7 linked regions of the Homo sapiens genome follow. The protein of the gene in region 4 purifies or fractionates together with the protein of the main gene of each other region. This does not show direct contact. Each region holds a gene or a part of one and is shown on either strand. Other genes may lie near its edges.

Region 1 (3,500 bases), on a different chromosome or scaffold from region 4:
CTCCATCTCAAAAAAAAAAAAAAAAAGACACTTGGAACCTGGAGGCAGCTGAAGGAATTTGAACGTGGCCTGTGCTTTAGATATTCACGCACTTGAAAGTCTTGGGTGTGTTGATGAAGTTGTGTTTCTGTAAGAGAAGGTCCTAGTGCTTAGGAGTTGTGTGCTGAAATATTTGGGGTAAGGTGTTATAACATCTGTGACTGACTTGCCACAAAAAGACAAAGCAAATGTGGCAAAATGATAATTCTTGGTGAAAAGATAAAATAATAAAATAGATGAGTCCTAAATGTAACCAATGACAACAAACAGCAGCCGGTATGCAATCCCGTGTCCCTCACTGTGACCGAAGAGCACTCTCTCCATTTCTGCCATGTCTTTCTCTGCTCCCAGGATGCTGGATGAGTACTTTGAGGAGCAGATGAAGGAGATCATCCGAATGTGTTCCCACCACCGCCAGACCATGCTCTTCTCGGCCACCATGACAGACGAGGTGGGCCGAGGGACTTCTCTGTGGCGGGTGGCAGGTGTGCCCAGAGGGGGCCATGCAGAGGACCCTGGCTGGGCTTGAGGGGGTTTGCCTGGGGTGAGCACTGCTTCCTCCTTCCCTACCACCTTGCAGAGAGCTGAGGAAACCTGGCTTTGTGCTTGGCAGGTGAAAGATCTGGCTTCTGTCTCCTTGAAGAATCCTGTCCGGATATTTGTGAACAGCAACACAGATGTGGCTCCCTTCCTGCGGCAGGAGTTCATCCGGATCCGGCCTAATCGTGAAGGAGACCGGGAAGCCATCGTGGCAGGTGGCAGCACAGGGCAAGCCTGGGCAGGGTGGGCTGGTCAGCTTCCTTGAGCTCGTAGTATCCATGCTGAAGTGCTTGGTTTCCCCTGCGCCTCTGCCGTCCAGTCTTCCCCAGCGCAGAGGCTGCACTGCACTAATGATGATCCGCTGCCTCTCTTCTCCACGGGTCCTTCCTCCCTTTGCTTTATCGCCTCACCAATCCTCTTTGTGTCCTGTTCAACTCCCAACCACTTGGCATCAGCTGCTGTTGTACCCGTCAGTCCAGACCACTGTTCTCTGTCGCCTGGATCGTTGCGCAGCCTCTTGCTCGAGCTCCCTGCTTCCACTCGGCCTTTTGTGACTCTCTGCATTGCAGAGCATTTACAATGATTGCTTGCAGAAGACATTCGTACTTATTATGTCCTTATTTGAACACCCTGCGGTGGCTTCCATTGGTCTTAGACTAAAATCCAAACATCTTAGTTTTTTAGGACTCTTCGGGCCTGGCCCTTGCCTGCCCGGGATCCCAGCCTTGGAGGCTTGCTCATGGCTCCAGCCACATTCGCCTGCTTGCACTTTTTTTTTTTTTTCTTTGAGGCAGAGTCTTGCTCTGTCGCCCAGGCTGGAGTACACTGGCACGATCTTGGCTCAATGCAGCCTTTGCCTCCTGGGTTCAAACGATTCTCCTGCCTCAGCCTCCCGAGTAGCTGGGATTACAGGCACTTGCCACCACTTCTGGCTAATTTTTGTATTTTTAGTAGAGATGGGGTTTCACCGTGTTTGCCAGGCTGGTCTTGAACTCCTGGCTTCAAGTGATCTGTCCTCCTTGGTCTCCCAAAGTGCTGGGATTACGGGCATGAGCCACTACATCCAGCCGCCTGCTTGCACTTCTCACTATAAGCTGGTTCCTGCCTCCGGGCCTTCATGTTTGCCATTTCCTCTGTCTAGAATCTTCCCCTGGATCTTCCCATGGATCATCTGCCTTGTCATTCAACCTAATGTCACCTCTTCAGAGAGGCCAGCCCTTAGCTGCTTCCCCCTCGTCCCTGCACTCTCTCTCACAGCATTTTTCACCCCCCAGGAATTGGCTTCTCTGTATCCACCCTGGAATTTGAGTTCCACAGGACAGGGACAGTGCCTGTCTATCCAGTGCCAGGCACAGTGACCATACTTTGTGGATGAGGAGGGGGTACATGTTGAATAAGAGCCTAGAAACAGCTGCCAGCTCAGTCCTCTCTTCCTGCCAGCTTTGTTGACGAGGACCTTCACTGACCATGTGATGCTGTTCACGCAAACCAAGAAGCAGGCCCACCGCATGCACATCCTCCTGGGGCTCATGGGGCTGCAGGTGGGTGAGCTCCATGGCAACTTGTCACAGACGCAGCGGCTGGAGGCCCTCCGGTAACATTTGGGGTGGGGACTGAGGCTCCCACCATCCTTCTGGGGCAGAGAGGATAGAAGGAAGAAGAGGACCCTGAGCATTCTATTAGAACATTAGCAGGGGACACATAGCATGATCTTGGCCTTGAACATTTTAACCTAACCACTGTGAGGTCATGTCTTAGATGTGTTTAGAACTCTAACTTCATAGTCAGAGATGACCCTCATGTCCTTGGATGCTTGTCCCTAGCATGGGAGCTGTTGTGTGGCGTGACAGAGGAAGCTGGCTTGGAAAGGCAACACATGGTCTCTTCTTGGAAGCTTTCTGAGAGTGGTGAACATTCCTGGGTCTGATTGAACAAGATTTAGAGTCAAAGTTAGCAGCCATTACTTGAGCATCTACTTTGCCAGGCACTGTGCTGCGTGCTTTCCATGTGATTTCTTGTTTAGTCCTCAGAGAATGGCATCAAGGTGGTTGGCAAGGAGGAACCCTTTAGAACTCTCCACCTAACCCTGTTCATCAGTGGGTGCTGAAAGGTGTTTGTTAAAGATAGGCTGATTTAAACTGAGACAATTGCCTATGCTGTTAGCAGATACAGAACTACGTTTGCTCTGTATGATGGGTTGTTGAAGGGTGGGTGTAAATATCCCATGTGCTCACATTTAGAATCTATCCCTATTTTTTTTTTTTTTTGAGACGGAGTCTCGCTCTGTCGCCCAGGCTGGAGTGCAGTGGCGCAATCTTGGCTTACTGCAAGCTCCGCCTCCCAGGTTCACGCCATTCTCCTGCCTCAGCCTCCCAAGTAGCTGGGACTACAGGCGCCCGCCACCATGCCTGGCTAATTTTTTGTATTTTTAGTAGAGACGGGGTTTCACCGTGTTAGCGAGGATGGTCTCGATCTCCTGACCTCGTGATCTGCCCACCTCGGCCTCCCAAAGTGCTGGGATTACAGGCGTGAGCCACCGTGCCCAGCCTCTATCCCCATTTTAATGCCCTGTTCTGTCCTCTGCTGGCTCAGGCTCTTGTGGAGCATTATTAGGGGAGGGTGTCTGGATGAACAGCTGTTTGTGACTGTTTCTAGGCGTTTTAAGGATGAACAGATTGACATCCTCGTGGCCACTGATGTGGCAGCCCGTGGACTTGACATTGAGGGGGTCAAAACGGTGAGCAGACACTATCTTCCTTGGACTTTTGGTGGAAGTCTTTTTGCCTCTTCGCACCCCCCTTCCCTTGCCAGGCCTGACGTTCATTTTTGACCTTCTAGGTAATCAACTTCACAATGCCTAATACCATCAAACATTATGTCCACCGGGTGGGGCGAACAGCACGTGCTGGCAGGGCTGGGCG
Region 2 (3,023 bases), on a different chromosome or scaffold from region 4:
GTAACCAGTCTTGAGGGTTTGTTGGGACCATTCCCAGGAGAGCTGCGTACAAGGGTGAAGCACTTTAGCACGAGGAGGCTGTGGGTACATTGTCAGGGTCAGGGGCTGAAGAGCTGAAGGGCAGTGTGGGCTGTGCATCAAAAAGAGGCAACCAAAGTCAGTTAGTGCCCCAGTCCTCATGGAGAGCTCCAGAGAACCCCAAGAGCTCACAAAGGAGTCAACAGTTAAATGCCTGTCTGCACAGAACACACCAATGGTACCTTAATCACGTAAGCTGAGACTTTCTTCGTTTAATATGCCCTCCCCCATTCCAATCCTAGAAGAGACAGGAAGTAAAGAATGAGTGAAATAATGACCATGTTCTCCCAAACCACTGAGGTAGAGGAACAGCAGCTTTAAACTGGATAAGTTGCTGACAGGTTCCTGAGATGTGGGAAAGGGTGGGGATGAAAAGCATCATACATACATATGTATATATAATATTATATATTATACATATATATAATTGTTTTATTTATTTATTGAGACAGGATCTCAGTTATCCAGGCCGGAGTACAGTGGCACAATCATAGCTCACTACAGCCTGAAATTCCTGGGCTCAAGCAATCCTCCCACCTCAGCCTTCCTAGTAGCTGGGATCACAGATAAGAGCCACTGCACTTGGCCCAAAAACATATTTAAAATGTTAATACTTTAGATTGGTTTCAGTCATGTTATAGGGAATAATGGAACGTATTTATACCAGAGTATTAACAATGTAGAAGGACCCTTGAAACGAAGCCAAAAAGATAGGGGCTGTGGCAATTAAGGAGACTTCCAAGAAGTCTAATACTAAGTAGGGCATCCCTGCTTAATCAATAACACTTCATTTCGTGACCATGAGACAAGAAAACTACAGAGACCTCATCCCTAACATCCTTCAGCTCCAGAACCAATGCCAAATCACCTAACTCCAGGTTATATGACAAAAAAAAACATCTGTTTAGGACATTCTTTAGTGGGATTTGTTTTTCCGGTCACAGTCACAATGACGGATTTAAAAAAAAAAGAGTATCTCAACTTCCTATTGGGAGTACATGTTTTCCCCTGATTTTAAACTCATGGGACAAAAAGAAAGTGTTGACTGGCATCTGGCAAGATAATTAAATATCTGAAACACCCTGAAGGAAACAAAGAGGGTACTGTGGTCAAGAGTAAGGTGGACAGGATACCATAGAAGATATATCCAGTGTATATAATGATAACTGCTAAAACACCCTCAAAACTCACTAGCAGAATGTAATCAAGTTTATTTTCTTGTTCAAAGTCCAATATGGATGTTTTTGGTCAAGTAGCTATTATGCCCTAAATAGTAACTCAGGTATTCAGACTTCTTCTATGCTATGACTCCATCACCGTCAAAACATGTGCTTCAAGGTTACCTTGAAGAGGAAGGAGGAAGAGAATAATGGAAATGGCTCAGCCACCCTTTAACTGCCTTGGTCTAGTATTGAAACATCACTTCCACTCATTTTCCACTGTTGAGAACTACTCACATAGGCCTAGATGCATGGAGCTGGGAAATGCAGTTTACCTGTGTCCAGAAAGAGGACATTTGGGTGAGCATCTGGCCAGTTTCTTCCACAGAAGCAAAGGTAATAGTGGTATGAATTCAGGAAGATGAAAATGAGCTCACTGGGGAAAGAGTATTCAAGGAAGATGGAGCATGTGCAAAGACTCTCAGTAGAAACAGTTTGGAAAGCTTGAGGAATAAAAAGCAAGTCTGTGTGGCTGGAGTTTTGTGAAAGGGGAGGAGTGGGTTAAGATGCAGATGGTGATGGTGACGGAGGCCTGGGCAAGATCACACGGGGCCTGAAAAGTTTGTCTTTTGTTCTCGAGGCAGTGAGAATCCATTGAAGGATTTTAAGCAGAGAAGTGACATAAGCTGATTTACATTTTAAAAAGATCACATGGCTGTGTGGAAAATTAATTGCTTTAGGGACACGAGTAGAAGCAATTAGACCACCAGTAAGGCAGTTACTGCAGGAGTTGGGTATCCTAAAACCAGATGGCTGGTCAGAGAATTCACCTGGGAAGGAGGATGACCAGGGGATGAAAGGTTCTAATTACTGGTCTCTGTGAAAAGCTGTAGAGAGTTTTGTGCAGTTACATAAATGGTTGGGTTTGGAGCTGAGCGGTGTCTCTGCCAAGATCATGTTGTTTCTTTTAGAACTGTGTTCCCTTAGGACTGGACTATATTATGGGAACAGAAGCTGGAGCACACCAATAACTGCAGAAGCAGTAACTATTTATTTGGAGAACTCTCAAAGGGATGCTGAACAAGCATGAGGCACGGATAACCAAACCCAATTTTATTCTTGTCTCTTACCACCCTCCAAATTTTATTCACTGGGAGGTACTCTCCCTGCTATGGAGAAAAGCTGCAGCGAGGTTGTGATGTTCTTAATAGATAGTCCTGTGATCAGTTTAAGGAACAAACATAATCTCAATTAATTAGAATGTCTAATCCTGTGTAACAATAATCTGCACCTGTTGCAGTTTTAAATCCCTTTTTCCTCTCCCAGCTCTGCCCCAGCTAAGTCTAGGAGCCTGCACTGGGAAAGGGAGGAGTGATTGGTATGCTCTTCCCTCTGCTCGGCTCCTCTCTACCTAATCACTGCTGATTGCTCTGGGCCCAAGTGATGAGGAGAGGTAAACAGATAAATCATTTTGCCCTGACTGGGTATTTCTATGCACTGTGGGCCTGGAAGATATTTCCTCTCCCCTATTCTCACTCTCAAATGATAAACTGGCTTCCTGCTCCCCTGAAAAAAAATCAAAGCAATCAGAAATGAACTTCTGGGGCCCTATCAGGAACTCTGGAAGAGGGCTTTCATAATGGAGCAACCTCTTACCACTGCCATTTACCTCAAACAGGCCCTCCACATTACTCAGCAATCCTTACCCCACTGCATTCTGAGTTCTCTCTCATCTCAATAGCACTCGACAGCTAACAACCTGCCCATCCTCCCATAAAAAAAAAA
Region 3 (3,500 bases), about 20 Mb from region 4:
AGTAAAGCTGATGTGAAGCCACAATTGCCTGATTGGTATTCGTACTAACAGCTTAAGATGGGGAGTGCACTGATGGGAATGTAAATTGGTTCAGCCACTGTGGAAAGCAGTTTGGAGATTTCTCAAAGAACTCAGAACTACCATTTCACTCAGCAATCCTGTTACTGGGTATATATCCAAAAGAAAATCATCCTACCAAAAAGACACCTGCACTCACACGTTCATCACAGCACTATTCACAACAGCAAAGACACGGAATCAACCAGGTGCCCAGCAATGGTAGACTGGATACAGAAAATGTCATTCATATACACCATGGAATACTACGCAGCCCCCAAAAAAGAATGAACCCATATCCTTTGCAGCAACATGGATGCAGCTGGAGGTCATTATCCTAAGCAAATTAATGCAGGAATAGAAAACCAAATACCACATGTTCTTATAAGTGGGAGCTAAACATGGGTACTCATGGACAGAAAAATGGCAAGAGTAGACACTGGGCACTACTGGAGCGGGGAGGGAAGAAGCGGGCAAAGATTGGAAAACTAACTATTGGGTACTATGCTCATTACCTGGGTGACAGGATTAATCGTACCCCAAACCTTGGCATCACAATATATACCCATGTAAGAAATCTGCATATGTACTCCCTGAATCTAAAATAAAAGTTGAAATTATTAAAGAAAAAGGGGGGTGGGGAGAGAGACAGTGTGTGTGTGTGTGTGTGCACGTGCACACGTAGGCGTGATAGACTCATCCTCCCACCCACACCCTGCCCTGGGGAAGCAGTGGCCCACACAAGGCGACACTGTGCCTGGGGCAGCCGCCTGAGCCCAGCAGGAAGCATGTGCCAGGTCTGTGGGTTTCTATTTTTACCCATGACCTGCCCTGGCATTTTCCAGCTCCGGGTAACCCAAGCCAGGGGCAGAGCCTCCAGAGGGCACGGCTGGGCACAGAAGCCAGTAGAGTCCACGTCAAAGTGTGGGGCTCCTGGAGACGTGGAAGAAATTCTGGGCATGGAGAGCAGGGCAGCTGCCCTGAGTAGCATCTTGCGGGGTCAGAGCATCAGGACCATTGCCCCCTAGTTCAATTTTACAACTGTGCCCCCACTCTAGTCCTGTCTCTGTGCTACAGCTGAGCGACACCTGGTCCTTGCCTTGAGGGAGGATGAGCACAGGGGTGAGCGTGGGGCAGCCCGACGGGGGTCGCAACCCGCTGGATCTCCGTGAGCCTGGTGGCTAGGGAGGGGATTCACCCACAGAGCTGCCCACGGCCCCAGGTTCCCATGTTGCCTTCTCAATTTACTTGCTGTGCTGTGTGGCCTGGGCTGAGTTACTGAGCCTCTCCTCATCTGAAAAGTGTAAGTTAGCCACAGTTGTTGATGCTGTCTTGCCATTATCATTTTCATTACGGTACTACCTGGTAGCATTTTTCTGCACCGGGAAGTAGCACACGTAGAGGGAGCTCTCAGGTCCCTGCTCCTCTCTCCTTTATTGTGGGGTCTATTCTCTGCCTCCATCTGAGGGCTCAATTCAGGCCTAAGGAAAGCAGCATCTGCATCCAGAAACCACCCACAACCAGCGAGTTATCCACCCAGACCACGGCGTCACATTCAGCATGTGGCTGTGACTTCCCAGGGAGGTGTGGAAGCTGAGGGGACACTGGAGAGGCCCGAGGGGGGCCTGATCCTATGTATTTTCCTTCTAAGTGACAGTGTCCTCTGTGGTCCTAACCCTCAGCCTTCTGGGTCTGTCGCCCCCTCACCACCACCGCATCCCGACCACCCTCTAGTCCTGCCTACAGTGCTGCCCGGCCCCCAGCCTGCTCTCACTTCTGGAACATTCTGGGGCTTTCCAGGGAGGACGCAGGGATATTTTGGGAAAATCGAAGATCATGGGAGGAAGAGTCAAGGATTTGGGGGACCTGAAAACCACTAGCATGGTGACAACGTCTTTAGCCTCTTTTAATGCCCTCATTAATCTCACACTAATACATATGCCAGTCTTTTACAAAATGTCTGTCTCTTTCTCTCTCCCCCGCCCCCGTCGTGCAAACACACACACCCCTTAGAAAGAGCTATTTTTCCTATTGAACTAGCTCATAAGAATAATTGGAGGCATAAAATAGACTCAGAAATGACTGACAGATTCATAGGTGCTCTCAAAAGTGAAAAGTAGCTACACCAATCAAGAGAGAAGGAAGATCCCTGCTAACAGGAACTGGGCTCCTTGGAGAGACGGAGGCGTCCAGGTCCAGGGTGGGGAGTGTGCTAGATGAGCCTGGAATGTCGCATAGCGCCTGGAGGCACGGAGGCTAACCAAGGGGCTGCCCAAGCACCTGAAGAGGCTCCTGCTGCCTAAGATGAGACAACCTGAGCCTCACAAGTACTGATGGCAGCATTTGAGTGAAGCAGGATGCAAGATGAAAACCCACAAGTCCTCAAAGAAAACCCCCAGAGAAAAACTCATTTGTCCCTATCCAGACAGCCCCGTTAGTTAGAGAAGGCTCTTTTTTCTTTAATTGAAGAATGTCTGCTAAGCAATGTGGACCGAATAATAGATTATCAAATATTGCCCTATTCCATCTTCTAATTACGTGATTGATTTGGACAAGAACGCCAACACCATTAGGTGAAAGACTGATGGGGAACTGGATCTTCGCCGAGAGCCAAAGAACCACTGTTATAGTCACAAGGGGGGACGTAACTACCAGGGTCGCCAGCCTAAGGCCGCGATCAATCTCAGCATCGCTAACTGTGGGCCAACCCGACATCGAGGACCTCCTGATGGGACGCAATGTGACACACACACCACCAGTGAGGACTTCTTCTCAAAAATACTCAGCCCTCATCACTGAGCCCTGTAGATTCAGTTTCCACTTCACAGGAAACACAGGGATCAGAGGGTTAATTAAGTTCAGTGATATCAGAGAAAACAAAATCAATCCAGAAGGTGAGACATCCTACAGGGCAGCTGGTCCAGCCTTTTTTTTTCTTAATTTTTTTTATTTACTTTCTTTTTTTTTTTTTTTTTTTGAGACGGAGTCTCACTCTGACGCCCAGACTGGAGTGCAGTGGTGCGATCTCGGCTCACTGCAAGCTCCGCCTGCCGGGTTCACACCATTCTCCTGCCTCAGCCTCCCAGGTAGCTGGGACTACGGGCGCTCGCCACCACACCCGGCTAATTTTTTGTATTCTTTTAGTACAGACAGGGTTTCACCATGTTAGCCAGGATGGTCTCGATCTCCTGACCTCGTGATCCACCTGCCTCAGCCTCCCAAAGTGCTGGGATTACAGGCGTGAGCCATCGGGCCTGGCCCAGCCTTTTCAACTCATGAGAAATGAAGAGCTGGGAGGGGCTGTCCCATGTCAAAGGAACTAAGGCACCACCAAGCACCACCACACGCATCATGGGGACTCTGACTGAATTCTTGTTTGAACAAATCAAAATATTTGGGGGACAAATAAACTGATTTGCTTTGTTCAGCGTATTCATAAAAAT
Region 4 (2,316 bases):
ATCAAGGACAAACAAATCACAAGCGCACAAATCTGATGAGTGCCAGGTGGGGTGCACATTTGGGAAGATGCCCCCACGTGGCTCTGAAGGCTCTTCCTGGGGGAGGCCTGCTCTCAGCTGCCTGCTCCTTCGGGAATTCAAACCCCAGGCAAAGGCAGCTGACCCCAGGCAAAGGCAGCTGGCCCCAGGCCAGAGAGGTCCTGGCTTCCCAACCTTGAGCTGTGCAGTCATTACCTAGGTGCAGGCTGGGCTACAGGGACAGCCAAGCTGAGCAAGGACAGGTCCCCGCAGCCTAGACTGGGGCACCGCTTCGTTCTCGGTCTCACTCCCCGCTGTGCCGTGCTTTGCCTGTGAGACGGCGGCGCTGGGCCTTGCTGGTACGAGGGGCCCTTGGGGGCTTTTTGGAGTCCTGGGCCCGTCGGGGATGTTTCCTCTTGACCTTTTTGCGGCTGTGTGCATGTAGTGATGCTGTGAGGGAGGAGATCCTAGGGGAGGGCAGAAAGCCTCAGTTTAAGATTGCATTGTGGGGTGACTCACCACCTGGCTCACGGAGGGGATGTCAGGACAGGTTGCGAATGCCAGGACCGCCAAGTTCATGCCAGAGTTGGCCTGCTCTACCTCCAGAGTGCCTGCCAGCAACTCAGCTCAGAGACACAGGCCCTTCACCCAGGCACGAAAAGCACTGGAGGTCAGACACTATCAGGGGTGGGTGGGACAGGACGGGGCAATGAGGAGAGGCAGAGGATCACTGGACAGGCAGAGGGCTGCTCCGGGCCCTACACCTGCTCCACACCACCCTAAGGGCCAGGTCACTACTGCCAGCCAGGAGGGGTGGGACCGGGGAGGCAGCAGGCCAAGACTCACCGCTGAGAGAGCAGGGGGTCTCTGGACTTCCTGGGCAAGGCTTTGGTTGGTTTCTCCGTGGATGACGCCTCCTCCTCAGACCTGTCTCCAGCCCCTCCCTAAAGAGGCACAAGACAATGACTTACATGGAGCAGTAGCTGGGGGGACCTGGGCTGGGCACCCCGAGCCACCATGGCTCTGGCAAGTGGTGGCGCGCCCTGCTGCATCACAGGCCTGGGTTGGGACTAGAGAAGGCTTCTGATGGAAGAAGTCTATCTGCCCTAAAGCAAGGATTACACAGGGGAAGGTCTGTTTCCAAACCCTTTCCTGCCCCTAGAAGCTTCCAGGACATACTTAAACATTCAGGAATGAAAATCCTAGCAAAACGGGGACAAGACTTGTCTTTGTATCAGAACTTGCAGAATAGTGAGCATAAAATGAAAGACCGGTGTGAGATCAGTATGGTTTTGTTTTGTTTTGTTTTTTGAGATGGAGTCTCGCTCTGTCACCCAGGCTGGAGTGCAGTGGCACAATCGTGGCTCACTGCAACCTGCGCCTCCTGAGTTCAAGCAATTCTCCTGCCTCAGCCTCCCGAGTAGCTGGGATTACAGGTGCACGCCACCATGCCTGGCTAAGTTTTTTTTGAGACGGAGTTTTGCTCTTTTTGCCCAGGCTGGAGTGCAATGGCACGATCTCGGCTCACCACAACCTCCACCTCCCAGGTTCAAGCTATTCTCCTGCTTCAGCCTCCCGAGTAGCTGGGATTACAGGCATGTCCCACCACACCCAGCTAATTTTGTATTTTTAGTAGAGACAGGGTTTCTCCACGTTGGTCAGTCTGGTCTCGAACTCCCAACCTCAGGTGATTCGCCCGCCTCGGCCTCCCAAAGTGCTGGGATTACAGGCATGAGCCACTGCGCCTGGCCCCCTGGCTAATTTTTTTACTTTTAATAGAGACGGGGTTTCACCATGTTGGCCAGGCTGGTCTCAAACTCCTGACCCCAGGTGATAACGCCCGCCTTGGCCTCCCAAAATGCCGGGATTACAGGCGTGAGCCACCATGCCTGGCCCTGAGATCAGTATGGATGTGATAGGGGAGTGGCTCCAGGACTTAAGAACACAGTAACCCACACAAGGAAATGTGTTTTATATCGTAATTGTGTGCATATATGTCCATAAATCCTTAGGCACACCCAGATACAACTCCAGTGGAAACAGCTGTCTCATGAAACAATATTTAACATGACACTTTCGGATATTTTCAATTATATTTTTTTTTTATGCTGATTGCAACCTACTCATGATTCACAACCCACAGGTTGAAAACCCACTTAGTGCACACAGACGTGCCAGGGCTGCGAATCGCACAAAGGGAACGATCACAACAAACGGCTACCTTTTGTGAAGCACTTATGACAGGGCTGGGCACTGTGCCAGGTGACTCACATGGATTAACCACTTTCACCCTCATAC
Region 5 (2,666 bases), on a different chromosome or scaffold from region 4:
TCGCAGGCATAGGGACGCTCCCCAGAGTGCACACGCCGGTGACTGACCAGGCGAGAGGAGGAGGAGAAGCGCCGCTCGCAGTCCGGGCACGGGTAGGGCTTCTCGCCCGTGTGGATGCGCTGGTGGATGACGAGGGCCGTGCGCTGGCGGAAGCGGCGGTTGCACTCGAGGCAAGTGTAGGGCTTCTCTCCCGTGTGTGTACGCTGGTGGATGGCTAGCAGGGAGGGGTAGGCGAAGCGACGTCCACAGCTAGGGCACTGGTGGGGTTTTTCACCTGTGTGTGTGGTCCGGTGATTGGCCAAGGACCGGCTCCTCCGGAAGCAGCGACCACAGTCAGGGCAGTGATAGGGCTTCTCCCCTGTATGGATGACCTGGTGCTGGGAGAGGTTCTTGCGCTGGGAGAAACGTTTGCCACACTGGTCACAAACATAGGGGCACTCGCCGGAGTGTGCCCGCCGGTGACTGACCAGCAGGGATGGATAGGAAAAGCGGCGCCCACAGTCTGGGCAAGGGTAAGGCTTTTTTAGATTCTGGGCGCACTTGTGGCTCTCCAGGGCCTGATGATCAGGGAAGGTACAGCCGCAGTCAGGGCAGATGGGGCCCCCGGACGTCTGCCTAGGAATCAGTCGGGGTTTGCTGGGCCTCCGGCCTCGCTTCCCCTTTCGGGGTGCCTCCTTAGGCGGGAATACTTCCTTCTCCCCATTCTTCTTTCTGGTTCTGCTTTCTATAGAAATACAGAAGCATTAATTTAACAAATACTGGGCTCCTGCTCTTGTCAATTACATTATAGGTTACAAGACCAATAGACTCACCCCCTGGTCTCAATTCCTAGTGCCACAGACAGCTAAGTGTGACATACTGTCATGCAAATACGGTGTGCATTACAGGAGCTTCTAACCCAGCTTGGAGAAGTCTAGGAAGATTTCTCGGAGATTAAACTAACTTTAAAAATTGAGGCCGGGCACAGTGGATCACGCTTGTAATCGTAAGCACTGGGAGGCCGAGGCGGGCAGATCACAAGGTCAGGAGTTTGAGAGCAGCCTGACCAACATGGTGAAACCCTGTTTCTACTAAAAATACAAAAATTAGCCGGGCGTGGTGGCACGCACCTGTAATCCCAGCTACCCAGAAGGCTGAGGCAGGAGAATCGCCCGGGAGGCAGAGGTTGCAGTGAGCCGAGATTGTGCCACTGCACTCCAACCTGGGCGAGAGAGCGAGATTCCATCTCAAAAAAAAAAAAAAAAGGAATATTTTTGAAGAGGTAAGCTTACATCATTCAAAAGTCAAAATATCAGCCAGGCATGGTTGCTCATGCCTGTAATCCCAGCACTTTGGGAGCCCAAGGCAAGAGATCGCTTGAACCCAGGAGTTCAAGATCAGCCTGGGCAGCATAGTGAGACCCCATCTCTACAAAAAATACAAATATTAGCCTGGCCTGGTGGCACGCGTGCCTGCCTGTAGTCCTAGCTACTTGGAAGGCTGAGGTAGAGGATTACTTGAGCCCAGGAGTTCAAGGCTACTGTGAACCATGATGGCACCACTGTACTCCAGCCTGGGCAACACAGCAAGACCCTATCTCAAAAAACAAACAAGTCAAAATATTAATAAAGGAATACAGAGAAGTCTTGCTGCCACCTTTTTCCAATCTACCTTGTAGAAACCATATTAGTTTTTTCCCATTTTTTTGATGCAATACAAATGTCACCTTCCCTATCTTTCTTTCATAAGAGATTGCATACACATGCTTTACAGCGTATGTTCTCTTCCCCACCTTTCTTTTTTTTTTTCTTTTTTGAGACAGAGTCACGCTCTGTCACCCAGGCTGGAGTGCAATGGTGTGATCTCAGTTCACTGAAATCTCCGCCTCCCGGGTTCAAGTGATTCTCCCTGCCTCAGCCTCCTAAGTAGCTGGGATTACAGGCATGCACCACTATGCCCAGCTAATTTTTTGTATTTTTAGTAGAGTCAGGGTTTCACCATGTTGGCCAGGTTGGTCTCGAACTCCTGACCTCAGGTTATCTGCTCACCTCTATCTCCCAAAGTGACTACAGGCGTGAGCCACCATGCCCAGCTCACCTTTCTTATACAAAAGACAACATATACACACCTTATACACACTTTACATTTTTTCACTTAATATATTCTAAAGATCATTTTATGTCAGCAAATCTTTTTTCTATTTTACAGCTACACAGAATTCCATTGTGGATGGTTTATTTGACTTAGCTGATTCTTTAAAAAATGTGGCTGGGCGTGGTGGCTCATGTCTGTAATCCTAGCACTTTAGGAGGCTGAGGCAGGCGGATCACCTGAGGTCAGGAGTTCAAGACCAGCCTGGCCAACATGGTGAAACCCCGTCTCTACAAAAATATAAAAATTAGCTGGGCACAATAGCAGGTGCCTATAATCCCAGCTACCCAGAGGCTGAGGTGGGAGAATCACTTGATCCTGGGAGGCGGAGGTTGCAGTGAGCCAAGATCACGCCATTGCACTCCAGCCTGCATGACAGAGTGAGACTCCATCTCAAAAAAAAAAAAAAAAAAAAAAAAAAGAATTAAAATTATGCAGTGTTAGAAACGTAAGTCCCAGCCAAGCGCAGTGGCTCATTCCTATAATCCCAGCACTTTGGGAGGCCAAGGTGGGCGGACTGTGAGGTCAGGAGTTCG
Region 6 (3,500 bases), on a different chromosome or scaffold from region 4:
AAAAAAAAAAAAAAGAAAGAAAGAAACAAAAAAGAAAAGAAAATATTTAAGGCATATGCAATAGAATCAAAGGGACAAAATATATCATTCATCCTTTTCTTAGTCCTTGTTCACACCCTTCCCCCACTCTGACAGCTATTTCAAACGTTTGCCACTCTAAAAGCCTGGTTCTCTCTCAGCTGATGTCCACATCTTATATTTTATCCATTCATTACACAAACATTTATTGAATTTTCATTATATACTAGGTACCATGGTAGACACTACATGAAAATGAGTATGACACAGCACCTGTCCTGATGAACTCCCAGACTAGTGGAAGAGAGAGACATTTAAACAAATAAATTAAAAGAACAGCATAAACTCTGGTAGAAATACGCATGGGGTGTCATGGAAACAGAATGGGTATCTTAATCAGCTTGGGGGAGGTATGATAAAAAGGTGACATGAGGGTTGGGCAAGAATGATCAGTAAAGGCTCTGTGTTAACTACAGCACTGGGGATGGAAGGGCCAGAAAGGGTCTGGAGGTCATTTCAGAACAGAATGAGCAACAAGAACAAAGGCACGGAAATAAGAAGTGGCCTGGTATGTGCAGCAAACCAAAGGCAAACTGGTATGGCTGGAACCTGAAGTATGACAAAGGGAACAGCCATGAGTCAAAGTTGGAAAGGCGCAGAGGCCAATGCATAATGAGCTGCGTAGGCCATGGTAAAAAGCTTAGATTTCATCCAGAAACGATGGGTTTAAAGCAAGAACTTAAACTGCATTTCAAAGAGATCACTCTGGAGGGGATCTGGGGCAGGAAAATCACTGCAATGGTCCAGGCAACAGATGATGAAGGCAATGATAAAGAGGGACGGAAGAGAGAAGACACAGGAGGCAAAATTAGTAAGACTAATTAGCAGCACTAATTGATTAGGTACACAAGGACAAAGAAGGAGGAGGCAAGTTAGAGAGCACAAGAGTAGGAGCAGGCTTACAGTAGAAGCTGATGAGTTCAGCTTTGAATACAATGCATTTGAAATCTCTCAAGTCTAAATCAATAGAGAAATCCAACAAACAGCTAAATACACCAGACCAAGATGCAAATACTGATTTGGAAATCATGTACATATAGGTCATAGTTGAAAACATGACTAGGTAAGAATCAGCCAGAGGGAGCACATAGAGTGAGAACAGCTAAAAATTATGGATGGAGCCCTGGGAAAGACTTAAGAGGTGCACAGAGGAAGAGGAGTTTGCAAAGGTGGCCAAGAATGATCAGAGAAAAGAACCAGGAGTAGGGTGTCATGGAAAACAATACAGGGGTGAATTTCAAGGAGGTAGTGAGTGGACCTCAAATCCCTTTAATTACCATGCATTCTCTTGGTCTTCTTATCTAAACTTCTTAAAAAGCCTGTATTCACTATTTGTTTCCTCACTTTTCATTCACTCCTTAATACATTAGAACCTGGCCATTGTTTCACTACACAACGGAACTAGCCCTTTCAGGTCATCACTGACATTCCTTGTTGCCAAATCCAATGACTCCTCCTTCCTCTTCCCCAAATCAGCAAACAGGTCCCACCAGCTCACCCCTGACCACATCCCCACTTCCTATTCTCTTACTAACCATCCTTACTACCACTGCCTGCAAGTCGTAGTTCAGACACTCATTACTTTCAGCCTGAGCTACTGCAAAAGCCTTGTATCTGTTCTACTTCCAATCTTGTACCTTTCAAATCCTTCATATTACTGCTATAATGGATTTGTCTATCTAAAATGCAGAGCTGTTTTTAATCCTTCCGTGTCTCCCCTTTACCTCTAGGGTGAAGACCAAGCTCCTCAGATAGGCTTCCAGGGCCTTCTGTGATCACGGTCTGCCAACCTCTCTCATCCATCTCACGCTTTATGCTATCCAACAACAGCAAATTACTTAGGGACCCCCACCACCTGGTAACACCATGGTGTCTCATAGCCTTATGACTCTGCACATATAGGACCCTCTTCCTTTAATATCCTTCCTTTCCTTCTTATCTTGGCTGGTTACCAACATCCCTTAAAACTCAGCTCCCACATTTCATCCGTTAGGAAGCACTTCCTGATCACTCACATCCTCCTAAGGCTCAACTTACTCTTCCTTTGTGCTCCCAAAACATCTTGAAAATCTTCTATAGTAACACTAACCAAACAGCGTTGAAACTGTCTGTCTTCTATTCTAGATTGAAAGTGAGCTCCTGGGCTCAGGGGCTATCTCTCTTTAATCATGGAATCCCTAGTACCTACTACCTAGCTGCTTACACTTATAACATGTATGCTAAGACTTTCCCTTAAGGGATGAGTGGAGTGAGTAACAGAGGGCTTTAAGAAGGGAAGCTTGGCCGGACATGGTGGCTCACGCCTGTAATCCCAGCACTTTGGGAGGCCGAGGCAGGTGAATCACCTGAGATGAGAAGTTCGAGACCAGCCTGGCCAACATGGTGAAACCCTGTCTCTACTAAAAATACAAAAATTAGCTGGGCGTGGTGCTCACGCCTGTAATCCCAGCTACTCGGGAGGCTGAGGCAAGAGAATTGCTTGAACCTAGGAGGCGGAGGTTCCAGTGAGCCAAGATCGTGCCATTTTGCACTCCAGCCTGAGCAACAAGAGCGAAATTCCGTCTCAAAAAAAAAAGAAGGGAAGCTTATTATAAATGGCATCCTCTCCAACCTTAGAAGCATGGATGGTATTCCAAAGCACCAAGGAAACCACTGTTTTTTACCTTGGAAATAAGGTCTTAAGAGAGTTACACTAATATGATAATACAAAGGACATATGAATAACAAACACCAAATCCTAAGCAGAATCAGAAAACAAATTGCAGGAGAACTCACAGTGGAAAGAGCTTTGGACCAGAGAATCAGGAACGCAGAGTTCTAATTCCAGCTTTCTCAGGGAAATTGCATGACTCTAGGCAAACTGCTTATTTATTGGGCCTCAGTTTCTCTTTTTTTTGAGACGGAGTCTTGCTCTGTTGCCCAGGCTGGAGTGCAGTGGCACGATCTCGGCTCACTGCAAGCTCCGCTTCCCGGGTTCACGCCATTCTCCTGCCTCAGCCTTCCGAGCAGCTGGGACTACAGGCGCCCGCCACCACGCCCAGCTAATTTTTTGTATTTTTTTTAGTAGAGACGAGGTTTCACCATGTTAGCCAGGATGGTCTCAATCTCCTGACCTCGTGATCTGCCCGCCTCGGCCTCCCAAAGTGCTGAGATTATAGGCATGAGCCACCGCACCCGGCCCCGTTTCTCTTTCAATTAAGAGAGGCTGGGTAATTATCTTATGGGTTTTTCCAACAGATACTATATATCTGTTCCGGAAATATTCCCTTGCAGCAGGCCGAAAAGAGACAAAACTAGAAAAGATGATGAAAGATGAATAACAAAAAGAAAGCAAGGGTGACAAAGGGAAATAAGAGAAGAAATCTAGGATAAAATCAGAACAAGAAGTGGAAAAAAGCAACTGAGAAAAATGAAGACAAATT
Region 7 (3,500 bases), on a different chromosome or scaffold from region 4:
TCAATAAGGAATGAGCTCCGACTGAAACTTTTTCCACACTCAATACAAAGAAAAGGCTTCTCGCCAGTGTGAATTTTTTGGTGTTGTATAAGGTATGTGCTTAATCGAAAGGCTTTCCCACATTCACCACATTTATGGGGTCTTTCCCCAGTGTGAATTCTTTGATGCTCAACAAGCAATGAATTTCGACTAAAGCTCTTCTTACATTTGGTACAGTGATAAGGTTTCTCACCAGTGTGAGTTCTTTGATGCTCAATAAGGTGTGATTTCCAACTGAAGGCTTTCCCACAGTCACTACATTTATGGGGTTTCTCACCTGTATGAATCCTTTGATGTTTAACAAGGCTCCTTCTCTGGCTGAAGCTCTGTTTACACTGATTACACTGATAGGGTCTTTCTCCAGTGTGGATTCTCTGATGTCTAATAAGGGTTGAGCTCACACTAAAGGTTTTTCCACAGTAATTACACTCATAGGGCCTTTCCCCAGTGTGAATTCTCTGATGTTCAATAACAAATGAACTGCGACTAAAACTTTTCCCACATTCATTGCACTGAAAAGGTTTCTCACCAGTATGGACCCTTTGATGTTGAATGAAATGGGCCTTGCGGACAAAACCCTTTCCACATTCTTCACATTTATGGCATTTCTCTTCTGAGTTTGGTCTTTTACGGATAATGTTAGTGTTTTCTCTGAACATTCTCTGTTCCTGGGTCAAAGATTCCCTTGGTATTTCCCATAGGAAGATCCCTCTTTGTTTATCTAACCTACCAACAAGTTCAAATGTTTCTCTACCCATAGGATCCTGGTCAATTTCACTTTTGATTCTTGTAACTATTACACCCTGTGGTTCCACTTCTTCCTCAATTTCTTCAATCTCTTGTTTTACAGTTGGCTCCTCATCCTTATCTCTGTTCAAAACATCTGGAATAATAAAAAGGAAATACAAAGATCAACCAAGGTCTTTGAAGCAAGGAGAAACAAAGTAAGATGGGCAAACAAAGAAACAAATAAAGTCAAGGTGGGATTAATCAGTCTATCAAGGAAAACAGGGTAGGATGAAAAAAAACTCCACTAAGTTCAAGAAAATTAAGGATGAGAAAGCATTATTGGAATATGATCAGACCAAATAATTAACAGAAGGGACCAGATGCTAATGGCCAGGCATAGTGGCTCATGCCTGTAATCCCAGCATTTTGGGAGAGTGAGGTGGGAGGATCACTTGAGCTCAGGAGTTTGAGACCAGCCTGGGCAACAGTGAGACTTCATCTCTACAAAAAAAAAATTTTTTTTTAATTAGCCAGACATGGTGGTACACACCTGTAGTCCCAGCTACTCAGGTAGCTGAGGTGGGAGGATTGATCACTTAAGCCCAACAGGTTGAGGCTGCAGCAAGCTGTGTTTGCGTCGCTGCACACCAGCCTAGGCAATAGAGTGAGACCTAATCTCAAAAAAATAAAAATAAAAATAAAAAAAGATGCTAAGAAGGATAAAAGACAAAGATCCAGGGGAAACAATAATTCATTCATTAACAAGCATTTACTCACTGCCCATCAAAAGCACTCCAGAAACATTGTAATCAGCCAGGATTCAGAGATAAGACATGAAGCCCCCCTGCCAAATGGAATGGATGTTAAGTAAAAAATGGGGAAAGAAAATAATATGATAAAGAAAATATTAAGTAAAAAGCAGCTCCTGTATAAAGAGACAAAATGGCTTTTAAAAACAATAATAAAGGGTTAGGTGACAGAGAGTCTATGATATCGAGATGCAGAATAAAATAAGTATTAAGAAACATGGTCAGAGTTCATGGGAGCAACAACCAAAAAGGGCAGTCTGTGGTAGCTTATGACTTTACCTACCACAAATCATACCTCAAGTACATGTGATTCTAAACCCTCTAACAATATAAGACCCAAGGTTCACCATCTTGTTCCAACTGAGAGGCTGCATGACATCTGAGAAATGAAAATCTTGCATGTGTTGAAGAAAAGACAGCACAGTGGTCTATGATATAACAGAGTGTCATATAGTACATCTAGGCCCGCTTCGGACATCTTCCTGATTTTCCATCTCTTGCTGGAATAGATATTAGATAATTCCGCTAGAAGATTCAATAATGACCACATTTATATTTGGCCCTAAACAAGCTCCTTTTTCATACATCCTCTTTTCTCTCAATTTTTTGTGGAGTCATCTTTGAATTTTCTATTTGCTTACTTCATTATTTTATTCTAAAATAACCTTTTCCTATTCCCCTAAGAAACTACTAGAAATTTTATTTCTTCTAAGGCTTTTTAGTGTCCCCTCTCAAATTTTTCAGTGGGCTGTATTTTCTTTCACATAATGAAAAAACATGAAAGAACTCCCTCAACTTTCTGTCCTCTACCTATAAAATTATCTGCCAATGGTACATAAAGATATATCTGATTCTTATGCAAGGCTAATCCATCCATCACTTACCGATCCTACTCACCTCTGGGCATTTGCTTAATTATCCCGTCTTTCCTCTTTCTTCAATACACACTCTCTATTGACACTTTCCTACCATTACATAAATATGTCCAATTTTATCTTGAACCTGAAATCCTTCTCTTTATGAAAGCCAAGCATTGAAAAAAAATCTTAACACCGAGGTTTTCTATTTCTTATGTTTTCCAAGCCCAACCTCTTCCTATTCAATCTATTCTGCAACCTGTGGCGAAATCTGGTTTCTGTTTCCAGCATCTAGAGAAACTTCTCATTAGATTACCAATGACTCAAATAAAAATAAAACGGGCATTTTTTTTTTTTTTTTGAGACAGAGTTTCACTCTTATTGCCCAGGCTGGAGTGATCTTGGCTCACTACAACCTCCACCTCGCGGGTTCAAGCAATTCTCCTGCCTCAGCCTCCCAAGTAGCTGGGATTACAGGCACCCGCCACTGTGCCTAGCTAATTTTTTTGCATTTTTAGTAGAGATGGGGCACCATGTTGGTCTCGAACTCTGACCTCAGGTGATCCACCCACCTCAGCTTCCCAAAGTGCTGGGATTACAGAAGTGAGCCACCGTGCCTGGCCTAAAATGGGCATGTTTCAGTCCTTATGTTATTCAGCAGCATCTAACACTGTTGACCACCCCTATTTCTTGACATTATCTGTTTTTGGTTTCTACACTACCACATTCTTTTATTTCCTTCCCTACTTCTTTGGCCTTTTCTGATAAATTTCCCTCATTTATTTCTTTTCCTTTGTCAACTGACTTTTGTTATTGTTACCCACATTTACATCCTTACTTGTTCTGTATATACACCCTCCAGATATCTCCAGTTAAATGCCTCACAAAGGGCTCACAATTAACATGGTCATCATCATCTGCTTTCATGCCTTTCCCCACCTTTAATTATCTCTTGAAAGGCACCATCATCCATTACCCTATAGTCTCAAAGCAGCAATCATCCTGTATTTCTCCCTTCTTCTCACGTTAATCAATCATCCAAATCCTGGATTTCTCTCTAGCACCT

What was found.
Region 1: the proteins of NOL12 (region 4) and DDX27 purify together in Homo sapiens (affinity purification with mass spectrometry; 3 studies listed by BioGRID and IntAct, with this or other methods). This does not show direct contact.
Region 2: the proteins of NOL12 (region 4) and RRP8 purify together in Homo sapiens (affinity purification with mass spectrometry; 4 studies listed by BioGRID and IntAct, with this or other methods). This does not show direct contact.
Region 3: the proteins of NOL12 (region 4) and TUBA8 purify together in Homo sapiens (affinity purification with mass spectrometry; 3 studies listed by BioGRID and IntAct, with this or other methods). This does not show direct contact.
Region 5: the proteins of NOL12 (region 4) and ZNF689 purify together in Homo sapiens (affinity purification with mass spectrometry; 4 studies listed by BioGRID and IntAct, with this or other methods). This does not show direct contact.
Region 6: the proteins of NOL12 (region 4) and BUD13 purify together in Homo sapiens (affinity purification with mass spectrometry; 3 studies listed by BioGRID and IntAct, with this or other methods). This does not show direct contact.
Region 7: the proteins of NOL12 (region 4) and ZNF189 purify together in Homo sapiens (affinity purification with mass spectrometry; 3 studies listed by BioGRID and IntAct, with this or other methods). This does not show direct contact.

What each region holds. Positions count from the first base shown.
Region 1 is NC_000020.11:49,232,916-49,236,415, forward strand, and holds part of DDX27 (probable ATP-dependent RNA helicase DDX27), read left to right. Parts: intron 1-390; coding exon 391-490; intron 491-652; coding exon 653-794; intron 795-2,019; coding exon 2,020-2,173; intron 2,174-3,234; coding exon 3,235-3,316; intron 3,317-3,417; coding exon 3,418-3,500. UniProt on the Homo sapiens protein: Probable ATP-dependent RNA helicase. Component of the nucleolar ribosomal RNA (rRNA) processing machinery that regulates 3' end formation of ribosomal 47S rRNA.
Region 2 is NC_000011.10:6,594,572-6,597,594, forward strand, and holds the end of RRP8 (ribosomal RNA-processing protein 8), read right to left. Parts: 3' UTR 501-3,023; downstream 1-500.
Region 3 is NC_000022.11:18,117,309-18,120,808, reverse strand, and holds part of TUBA8 (tubulin alpha-8 chain), read right to left. Parts: intron 1-3,500.
Region 4 is NC_000022.11:37,689,343-37,691,658, reverse strand, and holds part of NOL12 (nucleolar protein 12), read right to left. Parts: intron 963-2,316; coding exon 865-962; intron 486-864; coding exon 323-485; 3' UTR 1-322. UniProt on the Homo sapiens protein: Multifunctional RNA binding protein that plays a role in RNA metabolism and DNA maintenance. Participates in the resolution of DNA stress and the maintenance of genome integrity by localizing to sites of DNA insults.
Region 5 is NC_000016.10:30,604,724-30,607,389, forward strand, and holds part of ZNF689 (zinc finger protein 689), read right to left. Parts: intron 725-2,666; coding exon 1-724. UniProt on the Homo sapiens protein: May be involved in transcriptional regulation.
Region 6 is NC_000011.10:116,748,988-116,752,487, forward strand, and holds part of BUD13 (BUD13 homolog), read right to left. Parts: intron 1-3,500. UniProt on the Homo sapiens protein: Involved in pre-mRNA splicing as component of the activated spliceosome. As a component of the minor spliceosome, involved in the splicing of U12-type introns in pre-mRNAs.
Region 7 is NC_000009.12:101,405,351-101,408,850, reverse strand, and holds part of ZNF189 (zinc finger protein 189), read right to left. Parts: exon of another isoform or gene 1,553-3,500; coding exon of another isoform or gene 1,546-1,552; intron 1,440-1,545; coding exon of another isoform or gene 1,319-1,439; intron 923-1,318; coding exon 1-922.